Linked DNA regions of Homo sapiens: region 2 is linked to region 1. The links come from fine-mapping of genetic effects on gene expression. A gene starts in region 1. The other region holds a variant in brackets. All regions are shown on one strand. Distances are from middle to middle. Region 1 holds the start of TICAM1 (TIR domain containing adaptor molecule 1). Region 2 overlaps SAFB2 (scaffold attachment factor B2).

Region 1 (12,164 bases):
GAGGTGTGTGGATTGCCTGAGCTCAGGAGTTCGAGACCAGCCTGCGCAACATGGTAAAACCCCGTTTCTACTAAAATACAAAAAATTAGCCGGGTGTGGCAGTGTGCGCCTGTAATCCCAGCTGCTTGGGAGGCTGAGGGAGGAGAATTGCTGGAACCCGGGCGGCAGAGGTTGCAGTGAACTGAAATGGCGCCACTGCACTCCACCCTGGGCGACAGAGCGAGACTCTGTCTTAAAACAACAACAACAAAAAACTACCTATCAGGTACGACAGTTATTACCTGTGTGATGGAATAATCTGTACACCAAACCCTGTGACATGCCATTTAGCTATATAACAAACCTGGATATGTACCCGTTAATTTTTGTATTTTTGTAGAGACTGGGTCTCCCCATGTTGCCTGGGCTCAAGTGATCCTCCCACCTTGGCCTCCCAAAGTGTTGGGATTACAGGCGTGAGCCACCGCGGCCGGCATTTTATCTAATTTTTAATTAATTAAGGCAGGGTGCAGTGGCTCATGCCTATAATCCCAGTACTTTAGGGGGCTGAGGTAGGAGGATCTCTTGAGCCCAAGAGTTCGAGACCAGCCTGGGCAACAGTGAGACCCATCTCTACAAAAAATAAAAATAGGCCGGGTGTGGTGGCTCACGCCTGTAATCCCAGCACTTTGGGAGGCTGAGGCAGGTGGATCACCTGAGTTTAGAAGTTCGAGACCAGCCTAGCCAACACAGTGAAACCCTGTCTCTACTAAAAATAAAAAATATTAGCAGGGCATGGTGGCAGGTGCTGGTAATCCCAGCTACTCGGGAGGCTGAGACAGGAGAATCGCTTGAACCGAGGAGGCAGAGGTTGCAGTAAGCCAAGATCACACCATTGCACTCCAGCCTGGGCAACAAGAGCAAAACTCCATCTCAAAATAAAGAAACAAACAAATAAATAAATAAATAAAATTAAAATAAAAATAATTAGCTGGGTGTGGTGGTGCATGCCTGTGGCCCCAGCTCCTTGGTAGACTGAGGTCAGAGGATCGCCTGAGGCCAGGAGAATCAAGGCTGCAGTGACCGGAGATCGCGCCACTGCACTCCAGCCTGGGCAATAGAGTGAGACGCTGTCTCAAAAACAACAAAATAAAAAAGGTATGGAAGATGCCTCATTCGTAATGGAACATTATATTGGACCATGTTGGGTATATTGAGTTAAATAAAATATATTATTAAATGCATTTACATATTGGATTAATAAAATGTATTATTAGGAGATATATATATATATTTATTTATTTATTTATATATTTTGGAGATGGAGTCTTGCTCCATTTTCCAGGCTAGAGTGCAATGGCATGATCTCGACTCACTGCAACCTCTGCCTCCCAGGTTCAAGCGATTCTCTTGCCTCAGCCTTCCGGGTAGCTGGGACTACAGGCATCCGCCATCATACCCGGCTAATTTTTGTATTTTTAGTAGAGACGGGGTTTCACCATGTTGCCCAGGCTGGTCTCGAACTCCTGACCTCAAGTGATCTGCCAGCCTCGGCCTCCCAAAGTGCTGGGATTACAGGCGTGAGCCACTGTTCGCGGCTGCTTCATGTTATATTTCTGTTGGACAGCACAGTTTTAGACATCTCCACTACAGTCCAGTAATATTGGAGTATGGCCCCTTTTTGACACAAGGAAACAGAGGTACAGAGAAGTTGAGTAAGTAGTCCAGAGTCACACAGCTCATAAGGGATACAGCTGGATTGGAACCCAGGCTGTCTGGTTCTAGAATCCACTGAGCTTTTTGGCTCCTTTTAACATTTTCAGATTTAACACAGACTCCAGCTTATGTGGACCTGGTTATGGGGCCTGAGAAACAGCCTCACCTAGTTTTAATTAAACTAATGTTCAGGAAATAAGCATATGGCCTAAGTACTCCTCTAGAGAAGTGGAGGATAAAAGGTTTTTCCTAATAATCTTAGGAAATAATAATAATAATAATAATAAAATAATGCAGGCACAATCGGACAATAAGAAAAAGGCCAGACGGCCGGGCGCAGTGGCTCACGCCTGTAATCCCAGCACTTTGAGAGGCCGAGGCGGGTGGATTGCCTGAGGTGAGGAGTTCGAGGCTAGCCTGGCCAACATGGTGAAACCCCGTCTGTACTAAAAATACAAAAATTAGCCGGGCATGGTGGCGCAAGCCTGTAATCCCAGCTATTCGGGAGGCTGAGGCAGGAGAATCGCTTGAACCCGGGAGGTGGAGGTTGAACCCGGGAGGCGGAGGTTGCGGTGAGCTGAGATCATGCCATTGCACTCCAGCCTAGGCTACAAGAGTGAAACTCTGTCTCCAAAAAAAAAAAAAAAAAAAAAAAAAAAAAAAGAAAAAGGCCAGATGCCCAGCTTCTATCTCTGTTGTAAGCTCTACATAAAATGGGATAAAAATGAAAATGGGCTGGGCGCGGTGGCTCACGCCTGTAATCCCAGCAGCACTTTGGGAGGCCGAGGCGGGCAGATCACGAGGTCAGGAGATCGAGACCGTGCTGGCTAACACGGTGAAACCCCGTCTCTACTAAAAATACAAAAAATTAGCCAGGTGTGGTGGCGGGCACCTGTACTCCCAGCTACTCGGAAGGCTGAGGCAGGAGAATGGTGTGAACCTGGGAGGCGGAGCTTGCAGCGAGCCGAGTTGGTGCCACTGCACTCCAGCCTGGGTGACAGAGTGAGACTCCATCTCAAAAAAAAAAAAAAAAAGATCCTATATTCAGGTGGGACCACAAGTCGGCCAAAACTTTTTGAAATGATCAAGACAACTACTTGGAATACGGTCCAATACCCCCACCCCCCGTTAAGTTCGATGATCCACGAATCAACTGCTCTTCCCACCTCCCGGTGTTTCCTGGGAACGGTTGTGTGTATAACTTACCAAGCAAAAAGCAAACATACATTGGCACGTACCCTCCAATTTTTAGCTGATAAGAGGGCATAGATGATAAAGTGTGGAGAAGGGCCATGCTGGGACAGGGTAGCAGTGGGGCTGGGCGTCATGCTGAAAATTCATTGAGTTTAACACTTAGAATTCACACTCTTTTTTGTTTTTTTTATTTTTTTTGAGACGGAGTCTCGGTCTGTCTCCCAGGCTGGAGTGCAGTGGCGCGATCTCGGCTCACTACAAGTTCTGCCTCCCGGGTTCCCACCGTTCTCCTGCCTCAGCCTCCTGTGTTGTTGTTTTTTGACAGGATCTTGCTCTGTTACCCAGGCTGGAGTGCAGTGGTGTGATCATAGCTCACTGCAGCCTCAACCTCCTGGGATTAAGAAGTGATCCTCCCACTCAGCCTCCCAAGTAGCTGGGACTACAGGCACATGCCACCATGCCCAGCTAATTATTAATGTTTTGTAGGGACGGGGTCTGGAACTCCTGGGCCCAAGCGATCCTCCCACCTTGGCCTCCCAAAGTGCTGGGATTACAGGTATGAGCCACTGCACCCAGCCTACATGTCAGTAAAATATATATACATATATATATTTTTTGAGACGGAGTCCCACTTTGTCGCCCAGGCTGGAGTGCAGTGGTGCGATCTAGGCTCACTACAGCCTCCGCATCCTGGGCTCAAGTGATTCTTGTGCCTCACTCTCCTGAGTAGCTGGGATTACAGGAGCCTGCCACCACGCCCAGATAATCTTTTTTTTTTTTTTTTTCTGAGACCGAATCTCCCTCTGTCGCCAGGCTGGAGTGCAGTGGCGCGATCTCGGCTCACTGCAACCTCCACCTCCTGGGTTCAAGCAATTCTCCTGCCTCACCCTCCCGAGTAGCTGGGACTACAGGTGCATGCCACCATGCCCAGGTAATTTTTGTATTTTTAGTAGGGACGGGGTTTCACCATGTTGGCCAGGATGGTCTCAATCTCTTGATCTCGTGATCCGCCTGCCTTGGCCTCCAAAATTCTGGGATTACAGGCGTTAGCCACCACGCCCTGCTAGTTTTTGTAATTTTAGTAGAGACAGGGTTTCAGGCTGTTGGCCAGGCTGGTCTCGAACTCCTGACCTCAATCGATCCGCCTGCCTTGGCCTCCCAGAGTGCTGGGATTACAGGCATGAGCCACTGCGCCCGGCCTGTATAGGACTCTTAAAGCAGTGCCTGGCACACGCATGCCCCACAAACATTAGCATGCAAGACTGAAACCTCCTTGCAAGAAGGACTCAGGGGAGTTTTGCAGAAAACACGACAAAGCCAGCCAGACTTAGAATCATCAAGGCAGGACCATCTCCACCTGAATGCCTGGCAAATCTCTAAAATCACGTGGTCTTTCTTCTCATTCTCTCTGCCCCCCCGGGCCTGAACTCAACTCTATTTCAGTGACTGCCCCAGCTTCCCCCGCCCGCCTCCCCTGCCCACTGCCACCTCCACCTTCTCGAGACCCAGCAAGTTTCATTTCTCACTGTCCATGGCTGGGACAAAGTCCACTCCTCACTCTGAAGAGCAGGCGCCTGGCGGGACAAAAACACCCATGGGGTAGGAGGGTTCTGGCTCTGCCACCTGCCGGCTTGTGTGGTCTGTTTCTCAGCCTCAGCTTCCTCATTTATAACACCCACATGAACTGGTACTTAGGATGAATGGGAGTCTGTTTTGAAGCTTTCATGCGAAAATATGGTTAAAAAGTTTAGATCAGTGCCCAGCAAGGAGCAAGAGCTTGATATAATAATATTAGTGTGACAATAAATATTGGCAGACTTTTTCTCTTCCTCTTCCTTTTTAAAAAAATTTTTGATTTTTAATTTCATTTCTTTTTTTTTTTTTTTTTTTTTTTGACACAGAGTCTTGCTGTGTCGCCCAGGCTGGAGTGCAGTGGCGTGGTCTGGGCTCACTGCAACCTCCGCCTCTTGGGTTCAAGTGATTCTCCTGCCTCATCCTCCTGAGTGGCTGGGATTACAGGCATGCACCACCACGCCCCGCTAATTTTTGTATTTTTAGTAGAGACAGGGTTTCGCCATGTTGGTCAGGCTGGTCTCAAACTCCTGACCTCAGGTGATCTGCCTGGGATTACAGGCGTGAGCCACCTGCCCAGCCCCATTTCATTTTTTTTAGAGACAGGGTCTCACTCTGTCACCCAGGCTGGAGTGCAGTAGTGGGATCACGGCTCACTGCAGCCTTGAACTCCCGGGTTCAAGTGATCCTCCCACCTCAGCCTCCCGAGTAGCTGGGACTACAGGTGTGCGGCACCACACCTGGCTAATTTTTGTATTTTTGGTAGAGACAGAGTCTCACCCATGTTACCCAGGATCCTGGGCTCAAGCAATCCACCTGCCTCAGCCTCCCAAAGTGTTGGGATTACAGGCATAAACCACTGCACCCGGCTAACTTTCTTTTTGAATTTTTTTGTAGAGGTGGAGTCTCGCTATGCTGCCCAGGCTTGTCTTGAACTCCTGGGCTCAAGTGATCCTCCCACCTTGTCCTTTTTAAATGTTTTAACCACCTCTCCCACTCTCCTTCCCACACTCTCATGCAGCCTTTCATGCATCGAATATGCATTTATTGAGCACCTACTAGGTCCAGGAACTGTTCAAAGTGCCACTGCATATCAAGGCAGGCACATCTACCCTCACAGAGCTCCCAGTCTGGTTCAGGGAGACCAACAGTAAGCGAGAAAATAACCCAAGATCATTTCAGAGAATGAAAAGTAACGTGAAAGCCATGAGCCGGGGGCTGTGTGGCTCTGAGAGACTGGCTGGGAAGGGGCTACAGGGGACCACGGTGGTCAAGGGAGGCCTTTGGGGACAGGAGGTAACATTGAGCTGAGACCTAAAGGAGCTGAGGGAGGAGGCTGGGTGGAGATCAGGGAGGAAAGCTTCTGGAAGGTGAAGCCACCTGCCCAAAGGCCCTGGGGCAGGACTGCGCCTGGTGAGCTGGAGGAACAGTAAGGAAGCCCATGTGGCTGGATAACCGTTAGGAGGGGGAGAAAGGAAGAAGGTGTGTGGTGGTACAGGGTGTGAGGTTGGGATCCTGGGTGTCAGGGAAGAGTTTGGGGTGTCAGGGAGGAATTTGGGGTGTCTGGGAGGAATCTGGGGTATTCGGGAGGGATCCTGGGTGTTGGGGAAGAATCCAGGGTGTCAGAGAGGGGTCCTGGGTGTCACGGAGGAATTTGGGGTATCAGGGAGGGACCTTGGGTGTCAGGGAGAAATTCAGGGCGTTGAGAGAAATATGGGGTGTGAGGTAGGAAGCTTGGGTGTCAGGAATTTGGGGTGAGAAGGAATATGGGGTTTCAGGTAGGAATCCTGGGTGTTGGGGAGGAATCTGGGGTGTCCGGGAGGAATCTGGGGTTTGGGGGAGGGGTCAGGCTGTCGGGGAGGAAGCCAGGGTGCTGGGGAGGATCCCGACAGTGGGGGAGGATCTGGGCCACCAGCGCGGGGAGCTGGAGGTTGAGGGGAACGTCAACCTCCCAACGCGCGGCGCCAGGCCCCCTCCTCCGCACCGGGGCCCTAAGAGGGAGGCCAGGTGGCCTGGAGCCCTGGCGAGCGGCACGGGCTCAGGGCCACCCCCCACACCCCCGACACCTTCTCCACCTCAGGCCCGTCCTCGCCCCTTCCCCACCTACCAGGGATCCGGGGCTGCCGGCTGCGCCACTGGGTCCTGGGGTCCTGGGGGCTGGGGCTTCTGCGGAGTTGCCCGCGGACCGTAGCGCGCTGAGGGCGCTGGCTCCACCCCGCGGCCCGCGCCCTGGGAAGGAAGCGCGCCGCCCCTTCCGCGTCCCGGGTGGGTGTGGGACGTGAGGTCACGGTTTCGGAGTCCTGCCCCGCAGCACCGGGAAAGTCCCCGGGTCGCCCCGCACCCATGCGCTCTCTTCCCAACCCTTGCGGTCACGTTCAGCAAGTGTGAGCACCTACTGTCTGCAGGGGGCCAGAAGAACTCGCATCTGCTCTCGGGGAGCCCACAGTCATCTGGGCGGGGGTCCCAGATGAGAAAGTAATCACAATTGTAAAGTGGGATCATCTCCGTTAGTGATAGGTGCTTTCCAGGAAATAAATGTAGCAGCTGTTTTTATTTTATTTCTCTTATTTTATTTGTTTGTTTGTTTATTTATTTTTTTATTTATTTTCCGAGACGGAGTTTCGCTCTTGTTGCCCAGGCTGGAGTGCAATGGCGCAATCTCAGCTCACTGCAACCTCCGCCTCCCGGGTCCAAGCAATTCTACTGCCTCAGCTTCCTGAGTAACTGGGATTACAGGCATGTGCCACCACACCTGGCTAATTTTGTATTTTTAGTAGAGATGGAGTTTCTCCACCTTGGTCAGCGTGGTCTCGAACTCCCAACTTCAGGTGATCCACCTGCCTTGGCCTCCCAAAGTGCTGGGATTACAGGTGTGAGCCACCGTGTCCGGCCTCCCTTTTTTTTTTTTTTTTTTTTAGTTGGAGTCTTACTCTGTGGCCTAGGCTGGAGTGCGGTAGTGCGACCTCGGCTCACTGCAACCTCCACCTCATGGGTTCAAGCGATTCTCCTGCCTCAGCCTCCTGAGTAGCTGGGATTACAGGCACGTGCCACCACACCTGGCTAATTTTTGTATTTTTAGTTGAGATGGGGTTTCACCATGTTGGCCAGGCTGGTCTCGAACTCTTGACCTCAGGTGATCTGCCCGCCTCGGCCTCCCAAAGTGCTGGGATTACAGGCGTGAGCCGCTGCGCCCGGCCTAATTTTATGATTATAATAATTATTATTATTTGAAACGGGGTCTCCCTATATTACCCAGGCTGCTTTCAAACTTCCAGGCTCAAGCAATCCTCCCGCCTCGGCCTCTCAAAGTGCTAGGATTACAGGTGTGAGCCACCGCACCTGGCCTATATTATTTTTATCACCACATTAAATAAGATCTAATAATCACAGTGATTTTGCCGTGGTGACAAGTGTCAGATGTGTTTCTGGTTGCAATGCAATCTGAAAGTATCTGTGGTTTTTATTAGGGACAAACGGACAAAGTCCCAGGTCCTGTGGTTGTCTTCATTAATAATTGAGGGAATGGTAATTATCAGTTAGAGTCAGTGAAAATAAAGATGTGAAATTTTTTTCCTCCATCAGAATTCACAGACACCCTGAACACCCCTAAGAGGCTCAGGGACCCCAGGCTGAAGTTCACCTAAAAGTTCTTGTAGGGAGATAGCAATGGAAGTTATGTTGATGTCAAATCCCCCACAGTTCCCCTTATTGAGTACTTCTCTCCAGTGAGGGAGAAATTTTATTGAGCACTGACTGTGTTCCAGGAACGTCTAGGCTCTGGGAATACAGTAGCGGGGAAGACAGAAATGGTCTTACCCTTCAGGGTCTCCAGGGCTGGTGGGGGAGAGAAAGTTAAACACATCCTCCTGGCCTCTCTGTCTCCCACCCCAAAATTACCAATTCAAGGAGTGTCTCATAGGTGCTTGTACCCATGCAAAACTGTGCCCAGACTTTTTTTTTTTTTTTTTTTTTGAGACAGAATCTCACTCAGTCACCAGGCTGGAGTGCAGTGGTGCAATCTCGGCTCACTGCAACCTCAGCCTCCCGGGTTCAAGCGATCCTCCTGCCTCAGCCTCCCGAGTAGCTGGGACTACAGGTGCATGCCCCCATGCCTGGCTAATTTTTGTATTTTTAGTAGAGATGGAGTTTCACCATGTTGGCAAGGATGGTCTCGATCTCTTAACCTCGTGATCCACCCGCTCAGCCTCCCAAAGTGCTGGGATTACAGGCGTGAGCCACTGCACCCGGCTTTTTTTTTTTTTTTAGAGATGGGATTTCACTCTGTCGCACAGGCCGGAGTGGAGTGGCGCCATCATAGCTCAAAGCAGCCTCCAATTCTGGGCCTCAAGCGATCCTCCTGCCTGAGCCTCCCAAGTAGCTGGGACTACAGGCACGCAACACTGTGTTGAATTATTTTTTACATTTTTCTTTTAGAGACAGGGTCTCACTATGTTACCCAGACTGGTCCCCGACTCCTAGCTTTAAGAGATTGTCCCAATTTGGCCTCCCAAAGTGGTGGGATTACAGACATGAATCACCGTGACTGGGCTTTGCTGGTCAACTGATCAATGTCCTTTTTTTTTTTTTTTTTTTTTTTTTGAGACAGGGTCTTAATCTGCCACCCAGGCTGGAGTGTAGTGGTGTGATCACTAATCACTGTAGCCTTGACCTCCTGGTCTCAAGCGATCCTCCCACCTCAGCCTCCCAAGTAGCTGGGACTGCAGGTGCATGCCACCATGCCTGGCTAATGTAATTTTTTTTTTCTTTTGTAGAGATGATGTCTTTCTATGTTGACCAGGCTGGTTTCAAACTCCTGGCCTCAAGCAATCCTCCTGCCTTGGCTTCCCAAGGTGTTGGAATTACAGGCGTGAGCCACCATGCCTGGCTTGATCAATGTCTTAAAACAACCGTTTCTCCATCAAAATGGGTTTGATGGTTCCCATTTTACAGATGAGAGAACAGGCTCAGAGAAGGTAATGGCTGAAGAATTCAGAATTCCAGGGCTGCAGATGGGTGAATTTGGCCACTTGCAGAGAGGTGCAGTTGCCCCCTCTCTTCTTCAGTGAAAGAAACAGGCCGGGTGCGGTGGCTCATGCCTGTAATCCTAGCACTTTGGGAGGCTGAGGCGGGAGGATTGCTTGAGCCCAGGCGTTCAAGACTAGCCCTGGCAACACAGTGAGATCCCATCTCTACAAAAATTAAAAATAAAGAAAAAATGAGGGCCGGGTGCAGTGGCTCACGCCTGCAATCCCAGCACTTTGGGAGGCCGAGGCAGGTGGATCATGAGGTCAGGAGATCAAGACCATCCTGGCTAACACGGTGAAACCCCTGTCTCTACTAAAAATACAAAAAAATTAGCCGGGCGTGGTGGCGGGCACCTGTAGTCCCAGCTACTCAGGAGGCTGAGGCAGGAGAATGGTATGAACCCGGGAGGTGGAGCTTGCAGAGAGCCGAGATCACGCCACTGAACTCCAGCCTGGGCGACACAGCGAGACTCCATCTCAAAAAAAAAAAAAAAAAGAAAGAAAGAAAAAATGAGGCATGGCAGCACGTGCCTGTAGTCCCAGCTACCTGGGAGGCTGAGATGGGAGGACCACCAGAGCCCAAGAGGTTGAGACTGTAGTGAGCTATGATCGCACCACTGCACTCCAGCCTGGGCAACAGAGAGAAACCCTATCTCAAAGAAAAAATATAAAAAAAAAAAAGAAAGAAAGATAATATTCCAGTAAAAGTCCAAGTTTTTTTTTTACTTTCCCTCTCCACCACCTCCCCTAGAAGCCTCCACCCACAAGCCCATCCATTCTGTTTTCCACTTTTTTTTTTTTCTTTTTGGAGTCAGAGTCTCGCTCTGTCGCCCAGGCTGGAGTGCAGTGGCACGATCTTGGCTCACTGCAACCTCCTCCTCCTGGGTTCAAGCGATTCTCCTACTTCAGCCTCCTGAATAGCTGGGATTACAGCTGTGCGCCACCACGCCCAGCTAATTTTTGTATTTTTAGTAGAGATGGGGTTTCACCATGTTGGCCAGGCTGGTCTCGAACTCCTGGCCTCAAGTGATCTGCCTGCCTCAGCCTCCCAAAGTGCTGGGATTACAGGCATGAGCCACCATGCCCGGCCTCTGTTTTCCACTTTTGCACACATATCCACAGATCCGTGATCATGATACTGAATATTCTTCGATCTGATTTTCCTTTTTAATTCGCATAGGCCAGAGTTCAGCAAACTGTTTGTTGTAAAGGACCAGACAATAAATACTTTCGGCTGGGCGTGGTGGTTCACGCCTATAATCCCAGCACTTTGGGAGGCCGAGGCGGGCGGATCACAGTGTCAGGAGATCGAAACCATCCTGGCTAAAGCGGTGAAACCCCGTCTCTACTAAAAGTACAAAAAATTAGCCGGGCATGGTGGCAGGTGCCTGAAGTCCCAGTTACTCAGGAGGCTGAGGCAGGAGAATGGTGTGAACCTGTGAGGTGGTGCGGCTTGCAGTGAGCTGAGATCGCGCCACTGCACTCCAGCCTGGGCTACAGAGCGAGACTCCGTCTCAAAAAAAAAAAAATTTACTGTATTCCATTGTCAATATATCTTTGACACTTTCACAAGTCAACATATGTGTCATGTATGATATTCCAAAACAGGCATTGCTACCTTAAAATGTGGTGGTTATAAGCACCGTGGAGAGAACTTGACTCTTTGAGTCCAATTTTTTTTTTTTTTTTGAGACAGAGTCTCGCTCTGTTGCCCAGGCTGGAGTGCAGTGGCGTGATCTTGGTTCACTGCAACCTTTGCATCCTGGGCTAAGTGATTCTTGTGCCTCAGACTCCCCAGTAGCTGGGATTACAGGTGTGTGCCACCACACCCAGCTAATTTTTGTATTTTTAATAGAGAGGGGGATTTCACCATGTTGGCCAGCCTGGTCTCGAACTCCTGACCTCAAGTGACCTGCCCACCTTGGCCTCCCAAAGTGCTGAGATTACAGGCGTGAGGCACCATGCCTGGCCTGAGTTCAAATTACTACTCAGCTATTAGTAGCTGAGGTGGGGCTGAGGGTGGGCTCTCTGGATTACACCTCATTTTCCCTGGAGATAATAGCATCTATCTGATGGGATTGGGAAAAAGATCGGGTGAGAGCCAGGTGCAGTGACTCTCACCTGTAATCCCAGTGCTTTGGGAGGTTGAGTGGGAGGTCGCTTGAGCCCAGGAGTTTGAGACCAGCCTAGGCAACATAGCAAGACCCACATCTGTGTGTGTGTGTGTGTGTGTGTGTGTGTGTGTGTATAATTTAGCTGAGTGTGGTGGTGCACGCCTGTAGTTCCCAGATACTCAAGAGGATGAGGTGGGGCCAGATGTGGTGGCTCACACCTGTAACCTCAGTACTTTGGGAGGCCGAGGTGGGCAGATCACTTGAGGTCAGGAGTTTGAGACCAGCCTGGCTAACATGGTGAAACCCCATCTCTACTAAAAATACAAAATTACATCCTGGCTAACACGGTGAAACCCTGTCTCTACTAAAAATACAAAAAATTAGCCGGTTGTAGTGGCAGGCACCTGTAGTCCCGGCTACTCGGGAGGCTGAGGCAGGAGAATGGCGTGAACCCAGGAGGTGGAGCTTGCGGTGAGCCGAGATCGTGCCACTGTACTCCAGCCTTAGCCGGGCGTGGTGGTGCACGCCTGTAATCCCAGCTACTCGGGAGGCTGAGGCGGGAAAA
Region 2 (12,164 bases), 780 kb after region 1:
AGATGGCTGATGCACTTGGTCGCCTCGTCAGATGTCGACATGGTGACGAATCCATAGCATCGAGCCCCCGGGCTGCGGGCGTTCGTTACCACTTTGGCCCCGACAACCTTCATGAAAAAGGGCACTCTTACTCTCTCATACAAATGACCACACAACTTGCTAAAGTTATTACCTGGCAATCAGAATCATTTTCACTATTTGTCACCTCTCCCCATATGGTAGTTTTCCATTTTAGTTACTGAATTGGTTCTAATTAATCCTGACCTATCCAAATACAATTGCTTTTTTTTTTTTTGAGACAGTTTCGCTCTGTCACCCAGGCTGGAGTGCAGTGTCGCGATCTCGGCTCACCGCGACCTCCGCCTCCTGGGTTCAAGCAATTCTCCCGCCTCAGCCTCCGAAGTAGCTGGGATTACAGGCGCCCGCCACCACGCCTGGCTAATTTTTGTGTTTTTAGTAGAGATGGGGTTTCTCCATGTTGGCCAGGCTGGTCTCCAACTCCTGACCTCAAGTGATCTACCCAAGTCGGCCTCCCAAAGTGCTGGGATTACAGGCATGAGACACCGCACCCAGCCACTAAATACAACTGCTTTTAATACAAGATAAGTCATCACAAGGAAAACACACAAACATGCAAGGTTATAAAACCATTAAACTTCATTACTCACAACTAATAACCAGAAGTCCTACCCATCCACATTGTTTTCTCTATTTCCACTGTGCCCACAAACAGCTGTGGGGCTACTAAGAAATGCACCCATCCACTCCAGCTGGGCCTGAGAAGAGCTCTGACACAGACATGGACTGTCAGAAATGTCCCCATGGGGAAAGGACTTCCACTTCTGGCTGAGATGGGAGAACTAAGCATTGTCTTCCTGCCTGAAACAACTAACAAATGTGATGAAACGTAGGCAACGACAGTTTTCAGATCCTGGACATCAGGCTGCCCAAGACAACAATCCCTGAGAGCTCCCTGACTGCCCCTGCTCACTGCCTAGATTCCCAGGCAATGGGGGATGGGTAAGACAGCACTGAGATTCTGAGACCAAGACAGAGAGAAATCACGGAACTGAGTATCAGAGAGGACACAGCCACACAGAGCCACGCAGAGCAAGCTGAAGAGACCCACAGAGGGTTCCTCCCACCCAGTGCACACGTGTGCGAGGAAACCAGAGGCTGGGACAGCACCACCCATAAGGAGCAGAGGGAACAATCAGGAGCAGAGGGAACAACCACTGGAGGGGCACTCAGGGCCACAAATGGTTTGCTCTTCCCAATAGCCAGGGTGGAAAGGCTGGTAATTCACGGGCCATCAGACCCACTACTCAGAGGGCACTGCCCAGTGGTGAGACAAAATCAGCCCAAACTGAAGGCTACTTTGGCCCTGCCTTAGTGTGTGTCCAGTACCTCAGCTGTGTCCCAGAAAAAAGCTCAAGGGTATTTGTAGAGATACAAGTATAACTAGCACCCAAAAAATACAATTCACAACATCCAGTAAAAAATTACCAGGCACAGGCTGGGCACAGTGGCTCATGCCTGTAATCCCAGCACTTTGTGAGGCCAAGGCAGGTAGATCACTTGAGGCCAGGTGTTCAAAACCAGCCTGGGCAACACAGAGAAACCACATCTGTACCAAAAATTTTAAAAATTAGCTGGGTGTAGTGGTACATGCCTGTGGTCTCAGCTACTCAGGAGGCTGAGGTGAGAGGATCGCTTGAGCCCGGGAGCTCGAGGCTGCAGTGAGCACCACTGTACTCCAGCCTGGGTGACACAGTGAGATCCTGTCTCTAAGGGAAAACAAAACAAAACAAAAAAACCAGAAGAAACTTAAAAGCAGCCACAGAAAAAGAGAGAGAAAAGACACAAATTGGTAACTGAAGGAACAAAGATTAAATTAACCTAGAATTCTATACCCAGTGAAAATTTATTTCAAAATGAAGACAAAGTAAAGACTTTTTCTGACATGCAAAAGAAACAAGAACGTATCACCAGCAAACCTGCACTACAGGAAACATTCAATTCCTTCAGGAGGGAGGAAGATGATCTCCGATGGGAACTTGGATATACAACAAAAAGCAACGAAGAGCACCTGGTGAGGTGAACATGATTTTTTCCTGTCATTTCTGGGTCTCTTTAAAATATAACTGTTTGGCTGGGCGTGGTGGCTCACGCCTGTAATCTCAGCACTTTGGGAGGCCGAGGTGGGAGGATCACGAGGTCAGGAGATCAAGACCATCCTGACTAACACAGTGAAACCCCATCTCTACTTAAAATACAAAAAATTAGCCAGGCCTGGTGGCGGGCACCTGTAGTTCCAGCTACTTGGGAGGCTGAGGCAGGAGAATGGCATGAACCCAGGAGGCAGAGCTTGCAGTGAGCCGAGATCGCGCCACTGCACTCCAGCCTAGGCGACAGAGCGAGACTCCGTCTCAAAAACAAACAAAAACAAAAACAAAAACAAAAAAAAACACAACTGTTCAAAGCAAAAAAGCCAAACCACAACAAGTCAAAGCCAATAAAATATTGGGTGACTTCTTAAAGAGAAGTAAACCGTATGACAATAACATCACAAAGATCGACGGGAGGGGAAATGCAAGTATATTCCCACAGAGTTCTTGCACTACGCTGAAACCAACAGAGCACCCCTTGCAGACAGACTGTAAGGGAAGATGTGTACTGTAATCCTACAGTAAACCACAATGACACAGAGTTAGAGCAAATAAGCCATCAGTCATAAAAAGGACTCGACCCACAAGAAGGCAGATAAATGGGAAAAAGAGATCAATAAACAAACATGAACAGAAAATAGAGAACAAGACAGTAGATCTAACGCCAAGCCCACCACCACTGGCGCGCAGAGTAAACATTTCCCCGGGACACAGGAGTCCTGGTCTCTGCCCTATCTCTGACTCAGGGCATCAACCTAAGCAAGGCATTCCCCGTCTCTGGACCTCATGGCCCCAACTGTGAAATGACAAGGTGGAACCCACAAGCTTGAGGTTCCCATCTGACGTCCTTGGTTTTGACCACACAAATGGAGGAGTCAAGGCTCTGCCTGAATCTGTCCAGGGCCAAAGGGACAGAAGACTCTCCTGAGAGAAACACAGATGCCACTTCCCATTCTACCTTCCCATCAAATTAATCATCCTTACAAGTATATCTCTTCTGATGACAGACAAAACCCAAATGAGAGCAGGCACCATACTAAGCTTGTATGTCCCTATCCCTGAGCTATGCCATCCGCCCTGGAGGCTCTGCATACTTCAGTCAAGTAGCTGAGTGGTGTCCTGCCCCTCTGGCCTTCCTACGTCCTTCTGTTTTTGTCCAGAGCTGAGCCCCACAGGTAAGGCCAACTCTGTCACTCACGCCTCAGCTGAATGTCACTTCTTCAGCGAGCTCTGCTGAAGCTGCCTCCCAAATCTAAACACGGCCTCCCCAACACACTGACGGCGTGCTCTAATATTCCTTAATACGCTCATCACAACACATCATATGTGTTTATTTCTTAAATGGTCTTTTTCCCGCCAGACTAAAAAATCTGTGATGACAGTGACCACGTATGTTTACCTCTGCTTAATCATCAGTGTCCGAGTGAAGTCAACAAAGTAACTGAATAAACAGGTTATTCATGGCTATAAGAATTTCCTAAGCCCTTGCTGAACACACAGACTGTTCAGAGAAAAATTGAACAGCACGCTTTCTCCGGGTCCTGTCCGCTTCTTAAGCAATGAAACATTAACCAACACCTGATCGGGTGACACAGACCTAGACAAAGGAACGGCTTCTGTAGCCAGAAAACTGTGTCAGACAGGGCCCACTCTGCCTGGAATCAGGGCACCCTCCAGACACTAAATGGTCCGAACCTTGTCCCTTGGAAGCCACTCCCCAGAGGCACCCAGGAGACCAGGGCAGTGCCAATTGCTTACCAGAAGACTCTTGGCTAGGCGCGGTGGCTCACGCCTGTAATCCCAGCATTTTGGGAGGCCAAGCAGGCAGATCACATAGGTCAGGAGTTGGAGACCAGTCTGGCCAACATGGCGAAACCCCATCTCTACTGAAAATACAAAAATTAGCCAGGCATGGTGGTGGGTGCCTGTAATCCCAGCTACTCGAGAAGCTAAGGCACGAGAATCACTTGAACCTGGGAGGGAGGCGGAGGCTGCAGTGAGCCAAGATCACACCACTGCACTTCAGCCTGGGCAACAGAGCGAGACGCAGTCTCAAAAAAAAAAAAAAAAAAAAAAAGAACAACAAACAAACAAAAAAAGAAGACTCTTAATTAATTTCAAACAGTGGAATCATTTTAAATTGTCCTCACCTTCCTTTGGAAAGCTGCTGAATTGTACTATTTTTCTCCCACCCCCATGAGCAGCATCTTAGTGATTTATTTTTGAACCACGATCATGTTCTAGTTATGAGACTATATACTTAAAATGCTAAATGATATGAAAGTCAATTATTCACTTCATTCTTTTTTTTTTTTTTTTTTTTTATGACATAGTCTCGCTCTGTTACCCAGGCTGGAGTGCAGTGGCACAATCTTGGCTCACTGCAACCTCTGCCTCCTGGGTTCAAGTGATTCTCCCACCTCAGCTTCCCGAGTAGCTGCGACTACAGGCACAGAACACCACGGCTGGCTGATTTTTGTATTTTTAGCAGAGACAGGGTTTCGCCATGTTGGCCAGGCTGGTCTCCAACTCCTGACTTTAGGTGATACGCCCGCCTCGGCCTCCCAAATTATTCTTAAGGGAAAAATCTCATCATGTAAGCTTTAAGTTTTGCACAAGACAAAAGACCACCAGTCTCTTTGAGACCAGTTAGAAAGAACCCCAAGAACATTGAGAGAGAAGCTGTTTATACAGCTGTTCTGAGCACTGTTGTGATATGACCAACCACCTGCCCTGCTCCGCACCCTAGTTACTGTGAGTCAGGAAACAAGGTGCACTGCACAAGACTGGGCGAGCTTCGCTGCTGTCGTTCCATTTTTTAGTAAACACAACATCTTGCTATGTTGCCCAGGCTGGTCTTGAACTCCTGGGCTCAAGCAATCCTCCTGCCTCAGCCTCCCAAACTGCTGGGATTATAGACGTGAACCACCGTGCCCAGCAGAGCTTCCTTTTTAACTCTGAATCACAGTGGATGGTATGAGGCAAGGGAAGGCATACCTTCCCATACTTGCTGAAAAGGTTCTTGAGATCCGTAGCGCGTGTTGTGGAGGACAGCCCGCTGACCCACAGGTTCCGACCAGAACCGCTGCCGACCCGACCTGGCACGAGAGGGAGATTCTTAGGCATCACCCCAAGGCCTAACAGGAAGCACAACCATTCTTAAGACCGCAGCCCTCTTTAAAAACCCTAACGACGCCCAATCCCAACTGCTGACTTAAGAATTTAACGCACACACACATGCCAACACACAGAAGGCTGAAAATCTGGACAGCAAAAACTGAGTTTCCTTACTCAAGGAATAATCATGCCCATGTCAGTTATGAACTGAAATGTCTTTTGATGATCAGATCTCATCCAAGACGGCAGTCTCTAAAATCCTTGAAACAGTCTTCAATGAGCAGAATTATTCCTTTCTTGTAATGTGCTTTTCACCATCCCATAGATGACAACCACAAGAGAAACATAAAATGCAGGTGCTTGCGAACTTCTAAAACTAGTCTCTCAAGAAACCATTAGGTGGTTGATTCCGGTAACCCATAACAAAACAAATTACTGAATCCAAAGTGTGTATATCTCCAGGCCCCTCCTCCCAAAATAAGGGAACCATACCTGGCTCCCTACCACGTTAAATTAAATCATACCTTTTTCATCTTTAATGATTGGCTTTATATCTTTTTCTTCCTTAAAAGAGCTAGAGACAAAAGTTAATGTTACTCATACAGGAAAAAAACGAAAGAGAACAAAACTAAAAATATGATTATGTGCTAAAACTGAATACCTACCAGAAAATTAGTCTGAAATAAAATTTTAACAGACACCTCTGCAAGCTTATATTGGAAAATCTGACCCCAAAAATACAATGTCAGATTTGTAAAAGTCAATTCGATTTAGCTGAAGATAACAATTAACAATTTAAGAACACAACCATGGTAGGTTGAGAAAAAGAAAAGGAATTGAATCACCCATTAAAAACACACAAAGAGAAACGAAACATTCTTTAGAAGCAAAACTACAATTTCGTCAGTCTGGCTGGCCAATTGCAGAAAAAAACAGCTTATGTGTGTCATTACATGACCAATGAAAAGGAGATAGCGTCTGGTCTAAAACTGAGAAAAAACAAACCTCATTTTCTGATCAGCGCCCTCACTGGTTGAGGACTCTTTAGGAGCCGGAGGGACTTCATTACAAGCGTCAAAATCAAACTTCCTCCCGTCTTCTTTGCTATCTCTGGCTTCTGGGCTTGGGGCTTCCGTGGGTGCTTCTGCGAGCTCCTCGCTAGAGGCCTCCGCGAGCTCGGAGGCCGCACTACTCTGCTCAACTGCCGGCTCTAGCCCTACAGGCTCACAGTCCGTCCTCTCGCCATCGCCTGGCTGCTCCGCGGGCTCCCTTTTCACTACCGCTAACAGGCTGTCTGCCTTGCTCGACTGAGCGTGTGCTGTTGACTCGCTGGCCAAATCTAAATCACCCTCTTCCGGATGGGCGCTGTCAAATAGGTCCTCTTCCTCCGCAAGCTTTCTGTCTGGCCCCACGCTACTTGTGTCCTGTGCAAATGGCTGCTCCAGCTCGGAACTTTCTTCTTTTACTGGCTCAGATTTACAAGTTTCCCCCAAAATGTCGAGTATTTTCTCATTTTCTACGGATTTAACAGGAATAGAATGGCACAAGGTTTAATTACCAGGGAAATAAAGCAATCACAAATGTGGAACTGGCACGGCTGCCACACTAACACGAAGAGAACTGCTAGCTACACAGAGATTGGAAAACCCGCGGGTACACAAAGTTATACTGGTTACACTACCTGCGCCGCGACCGCCTCTAGGTAAGCCTCTACGCTACACGGAAGAGAAAAGGCCCCCACAGATTTAAACACCTACAACCACGCGGCTGGTTCTCAATAGTCTTCTTCGAGTTTTTGTTCAAGTCTGGGTCTTCTGACTGATTTTCCAATGTCCAAGGTGCTGAACCGAATGCAATCACCATTCAATGACAGCTCAACTTCCAAATTTCTTTGAATTTCTTTTAACAGAACAATCCAATATGAAAATCAGAATCTCTTCTGACGGTGGGAGATAAACGCAGTCCGGAAGGGGAATAATATGTTGAAAATTTTCA[C/T]GGAGAAACTCTGTTTCCTCTTCTGGAATCCAGTCACTTCTCAGGTGGTAAGTGCCCTGACAACAGCTTTATCCTGCCTTAACTGCGTTAATCAAAATGACTGCAGCAAAATATCACAAGATCTGTTTCATGTGTAGAAACACATGGAGGAATCACGGGGACGGGGGAATTAAATGCCACTCTACGTGGTTAGACATGAAAAGAATCACTACTACATTGCACCAAATGTATTTGACCTCAAGAAGCCAGAATGGCTCTTCCACAGATCTGGTGATACGAATGGGTTTCCAATCTCTGATCCTTGTATGATCTGGATTGTCCACCATTAGAGCAATTTACAAGATCATAACACAGCTTAAAATATAGACAGCTTTAAAATAATAGTGTGAAAACTTTCAAACCATAACTGTCGTGTTTCTCTTATCAGTACCTGGCTCCAAAAGGGATTCTTCAATGTCCTATTTAAAAAAGAAAAAGCAAATCCACAAGTCACTTTAAACACGGGGCACATACATTTCACCAGTAAATATGGCTTTCAATCATCTGTGAATAAATGCCTGTTTCCACAAAACTTTCTTGTCTCCAAAAAATGTATTCCATCCTACAATAACCTGATGAAAACCAGCTCATTTTAACAGTTTCCCTGGTAACAGCAGGTCCCTAGTGATAACAGTCTGTCCCATTCTCCCGAGTTTGGGCCCTGCCCTGCCATGCCACCCACCCCATGACCAAGCTGACCTAGTGGCTGCTGCAGCTGGCAAACACCCCCTTTGTCAGAGAAGAGGTCACAGTGGATTTAAGAAAAAAATACTTCTCCCAACATAAACTGATTTGTAACTGAAACCTGTCATAACAAAATGATCTCTCTACTCTGCTGAAAACCTTTTCCGACATCTGTCTCACTTAGGACAATAGGTCCAATCCTTCTGGTGGCCCAGACTCAGCGAGGCGGGCCCAGCTGCTCTGCAACACCTCTGGCTTCTATCCAACCCTGTGTGCTCCCCTCTCTCTTTTGCATCAGAGACACCACCCAAACTTTCTGCTCCAAATTCTTCTTTCCCTCTTCAACCTATCCGTCAGACCTCTGGGAAGAGTTCCAGGCACTTATGAAGTCCAACCACCAGAACTGCTCCCTCATCACACTTCTTTCTCCCTTCTGGTTACATATTTGGTTTGATCCCACTGCCCCTGCTAGATGGCCAGCCCTGAGACTGTTTCTCTTCTGCTAACCTCTTAACCCCAGCATCCAGCACAGTATCCAGTCATTTCCATACACATACACACTGCTCTTTCATTATGGAAAATCAACCACTCGATTAACATTTCCAGCGATGCAGAACCAGATGGTAACTTACCGGAGTTACTTTGAAGTTCAACGATGAAGTTTCCAAAGTGTTCTTAAATCCTTCCCCATCCACCTGAAAAACAAAATGGAAGATGACTTCGTGGAGGCTGGAGCTATGAAAACCAAGGCTGACACCTCGCTTAGGCAACTTGTGTGTCTATTTCCCTCACGGCACCTTTTGCCATCTGCAAGTCTACTGTTGGGTCATTCAGTTCAGCACCTGCCTCTCCGCCAGAACACACACTCCACGACTCTGCTCCACCAGCGTCTCTGGCAGTGGCCTGCAGGTGGGTATGCCCTGTCTGTACTGGGTGAATGAACGAATGAATTTCCCAGGCAGTTTCTAAGTACTGGTGATTACCACATACCCCTCCAATCACAGGATTTCCAAAGCAGAACTCAAAATGATAAAATGCACCCCTCCAATTTCACCTGGTAGCAATACTCTTAAGGTAACACTAACCGGGCACTTTCTCCTAGCCTACTTTATTCATTCATTCATTCACTCATTCATTTGAGACGGAGTGTCACTCCTTTTGCCCAGGCTGGAGTGCAATGGCGCCATCTCGGCTCATTGCAACCTCCACCTCCTGGGTTCAAGCAATTCTCCTGCCTCAGCCTCCCGAGGAGCTAGGATTACAGGCATGCACCACCACGCCCGGCTAATTTTTTGTATGTTTTAGTAGAGACGGGGTTTCACCATGTCCAGGCTGGTCTTGAACTCCTGACCTCAGGTGATCCGCCCACCTCAGCCTCCCGGAGTGTTGGGATTACAGGTGTGAGCCACCGCGCCTGGCCCGCCTAGCCTACTTTATTAAAAACAAACATCTAACTTGGTCAATTTCTCTCTTTACTACATGCCAAACAAAAGAAAAACTGTTAACACCAAGTTTTACTAAATCTGAAGCTCTTTTTAAGTGAACTACAAAAACAGCACTCCCAAATATTTTCTTTTTTCCTTTTCTCGATTTGAACTCATGACCTGGGATGCCTCCATTAACTGAGAAGTACACACTCTGAAAACAATAAGCACACAGCAGTACCAGACTGAGAAAGGCGGCTAACCAGTTGCTCAGTGCTGCCCTAGGTCAAAGGATGGTAAATTTGGAGGCAATGACTTTTGACCGTAAGGTTTAAGGTTCAGTCCTATGGAGGCATTTCCACCCCCAAGCTGAAAGCTGCAATGCCTTAAGGAAACAAAACAACCTACTGGGCACGTGACATCAGTCAGAGTACAATGAAGATCAGCTCGAAGACACTGACAGCTTGTGATATTTGAACAGCCTCACCAGAGAGCTCTACGCCAAAACACTAGAAGTGAAAAGCTGGGAAAGCCCTAACAGAGCAAAGTTCCTCCTTTACATACAAGGATGCTCACAGTCAGTCCTTTTGGGGAGCAGGGTTGATACTTGTCTTCACTGTACTTTACATCTTTTAATGTAACTGCTTAACCTTGCTTAAAACAACATTAACAGGCTAGGCGTGGTGACTCACCACTATAATCCCAGCACTTTGGGAGGCCGAGGCAGGCAGATCACTTGAGGTCAGGAGTTCGAGACCAGCTCAGCCAACATGATGAAACCCTATCTCTACCAAAAATATAAAAAATTAGTCAAGTGGCTGGGCGCAGTGGCTCAAGCCTGTAATCCCAGCACTTTGGGAGGCCAAGGCGGGCAGATCACGACGTCAGGAGATGGAGACCATCATGGCCAACATGGTGAAACCCCATCTCTACTAAAAATATAAAAAAATCAGCTGGGCGTGGTGGCGCATGCCTCTGGTCCCAGCTCCTCAGGAGGCTGAGGCAGGAGAATTGCTTGAATCAGGGAGGCGGAGGTTGCAGTGAGCCATAATCTTGCCACTGCACTCCAGCCTGGGTGACTGAGAGAGACTCTGTCTCAAAAACAAACAAACAAACAAAACACAACATTAGGAGGAATATCTACATGATGAGATTAGAAACCATTTTTGAGCTGGGCACGGTGGACCACACCTATAATCCCAGCACTCTGGGAGGCTGAGGCGGGAGGATTGCTTGAGCTCAGGGGTTCAAGATCAACCTGGGTAACCTAGTGAGATCCCGCCTCTAAAAAAAAAAAAATTTTTTTTTAATTAGCTGGGCGTGGTGGTTCACTGTGTAGTCTCAGTTATGCAGGGGGATTGCTTGAACCTGGGAGGCTGAGGCTGCAGTGAATTATGATGACCCCACTGCACTCCAGCCTGCACAACAGAGCAAGACCCTGTCTCTAAATAAATAAACCATCTTTGCTTCTTAAAACTGTATTTTAAAAGGAAAAAACTAAATGGGCACTGTGGCCTGTGCCAATAAGCCCAGGTAGTCAGGAGGATCGCTGGAGCCCAAGAGTTCAAGACCGGCCTGGGTAACAGTTGAGACCTCATCTCAGAAAAGAAAAATCTTTTATGTCAGAGCTTTCTATTTTATGACTCACCACATGCTTCGAATTATAAAAACACTCCCCAGTGCTACAGAAAAGCTATCTATGAGTAAATCCCTGAGCTACACAGCGTTTAAATGGACATGGTTTAACACCAGGGTGTAGAAGCAGAACTGTGTGTTCATGGCGGTTTAGCTGTGTTCTCCCTCACACGAGCAGCACGCGAGCACCAGGTGCCTCGGGGCTATGGGCACATCCTGCCGTGTCTCCAAGTTACCTACAGCATGCTCTGGGGGCTGAGCCGGGAGCTGTCTCAGCTGTGCAGCCACGTATTCTTTACTATCACAAAAGGAATCGAGAAGGCCGTCCGTGCCATCCTCCCCAAAATCTGGAGCACTGCTATTCGCCACTTCAGTTTCGTCTAGCACACTCATGTCCATCATGCCCATATTCTGCAGGTTCTCCAGACTTGCTTCCATGTCCTCCTGTAAAGAGGAAGAAGAATCGTTAACGACCACCTGGACCAGGACAGGGAGCTGCTGCTTGTCATCTCTACCCTGACATCACTTACCTGCCCGTCTCTGGAATCGTCTTCCAGGCCATTATCTTCTGTGCCTTCCTCCTCCATCTTCAGTCCTAATTACAGAATAATTGTTCAATCAGATAACACTCAAGTTCTACCTCATAATTAGTTTATGCAGAATAGATTTCAATCTTAGAACAGAACACATTACAAGATAAACTATAAGTCTCCCCTCTCCTGTCACACGTAATTTTGTCTCAATTTGTTTTCTTTTTTTTTTTTTTTTTTTTTTTTTTGAGATGGAGTCTCCCTGTGTCACCCAGGCTGGAGTGCAGCGGCACAATCTCGGCTCACTGCAATCTCCACCTCCTGGGTTCAAGCGATTCTCCTGCCTCAGCCTCCTCAGCAGCTGGGACTACAGGCGTGCATCACCATGCCCAGCTTATTTTTGTATTTTTAGTAGAGATGGGGTTTCACCATATTGGCCAGGCTGGTCTCAAACTCCTGACCTCGTGATCCACCAGCCTCGGTCTCCCAAAGTGCTGGGATTACAGGCATGAGCCATGGTGCCCGGCCTCAATTGGTGTTCTAAGTAAGCCATCAACAGGGAGATGAAAATC

What was found.
Region 2: its variant is fine-mapped to the expression of TICAM1 in left ventricle (GTEx, PIP 0.97).

What each region holds. Positions count from the first base shown.
Region 1 is chr19:4,825,046-4,837,209 of GRCh38, forward strand. It overlaps TICAM1 (TIR domain containing adaptor molecule 1), which reads right to left and starts at 6,667. Exons shown (of 2, transcript NM_182919.4): 1 at 6,569-6,667. RefSeq lists silencers at 6,384-6,503, 6,514-6,803.
Region 2 is chr19:5,604,830-5,616,993 of GRCh38, forward strand. It overlaps SAFB2 (scaffold attachment factor B2), which reads right to left. Exons shown (of 21, transcript NM_014649.3): 3 at 11,593-11,657; 4 at 11,303-11,506; 5 at 8,636-8,698; 6 at 7,711-7,738; 7 at 6,291-6,801; 8 at 5,810-5,859; 9 at 5,166-5,266; 10 at 1-107. Among named protein-coding and RNA genes, the nearest start is that of SAFB2, 12 kb to the right of the region's middle. RefSeq lists enhancers at 6,981-8,180, 12,153-12,164. The variant C/T (reference allele first, on the strand shown) is at 7,281.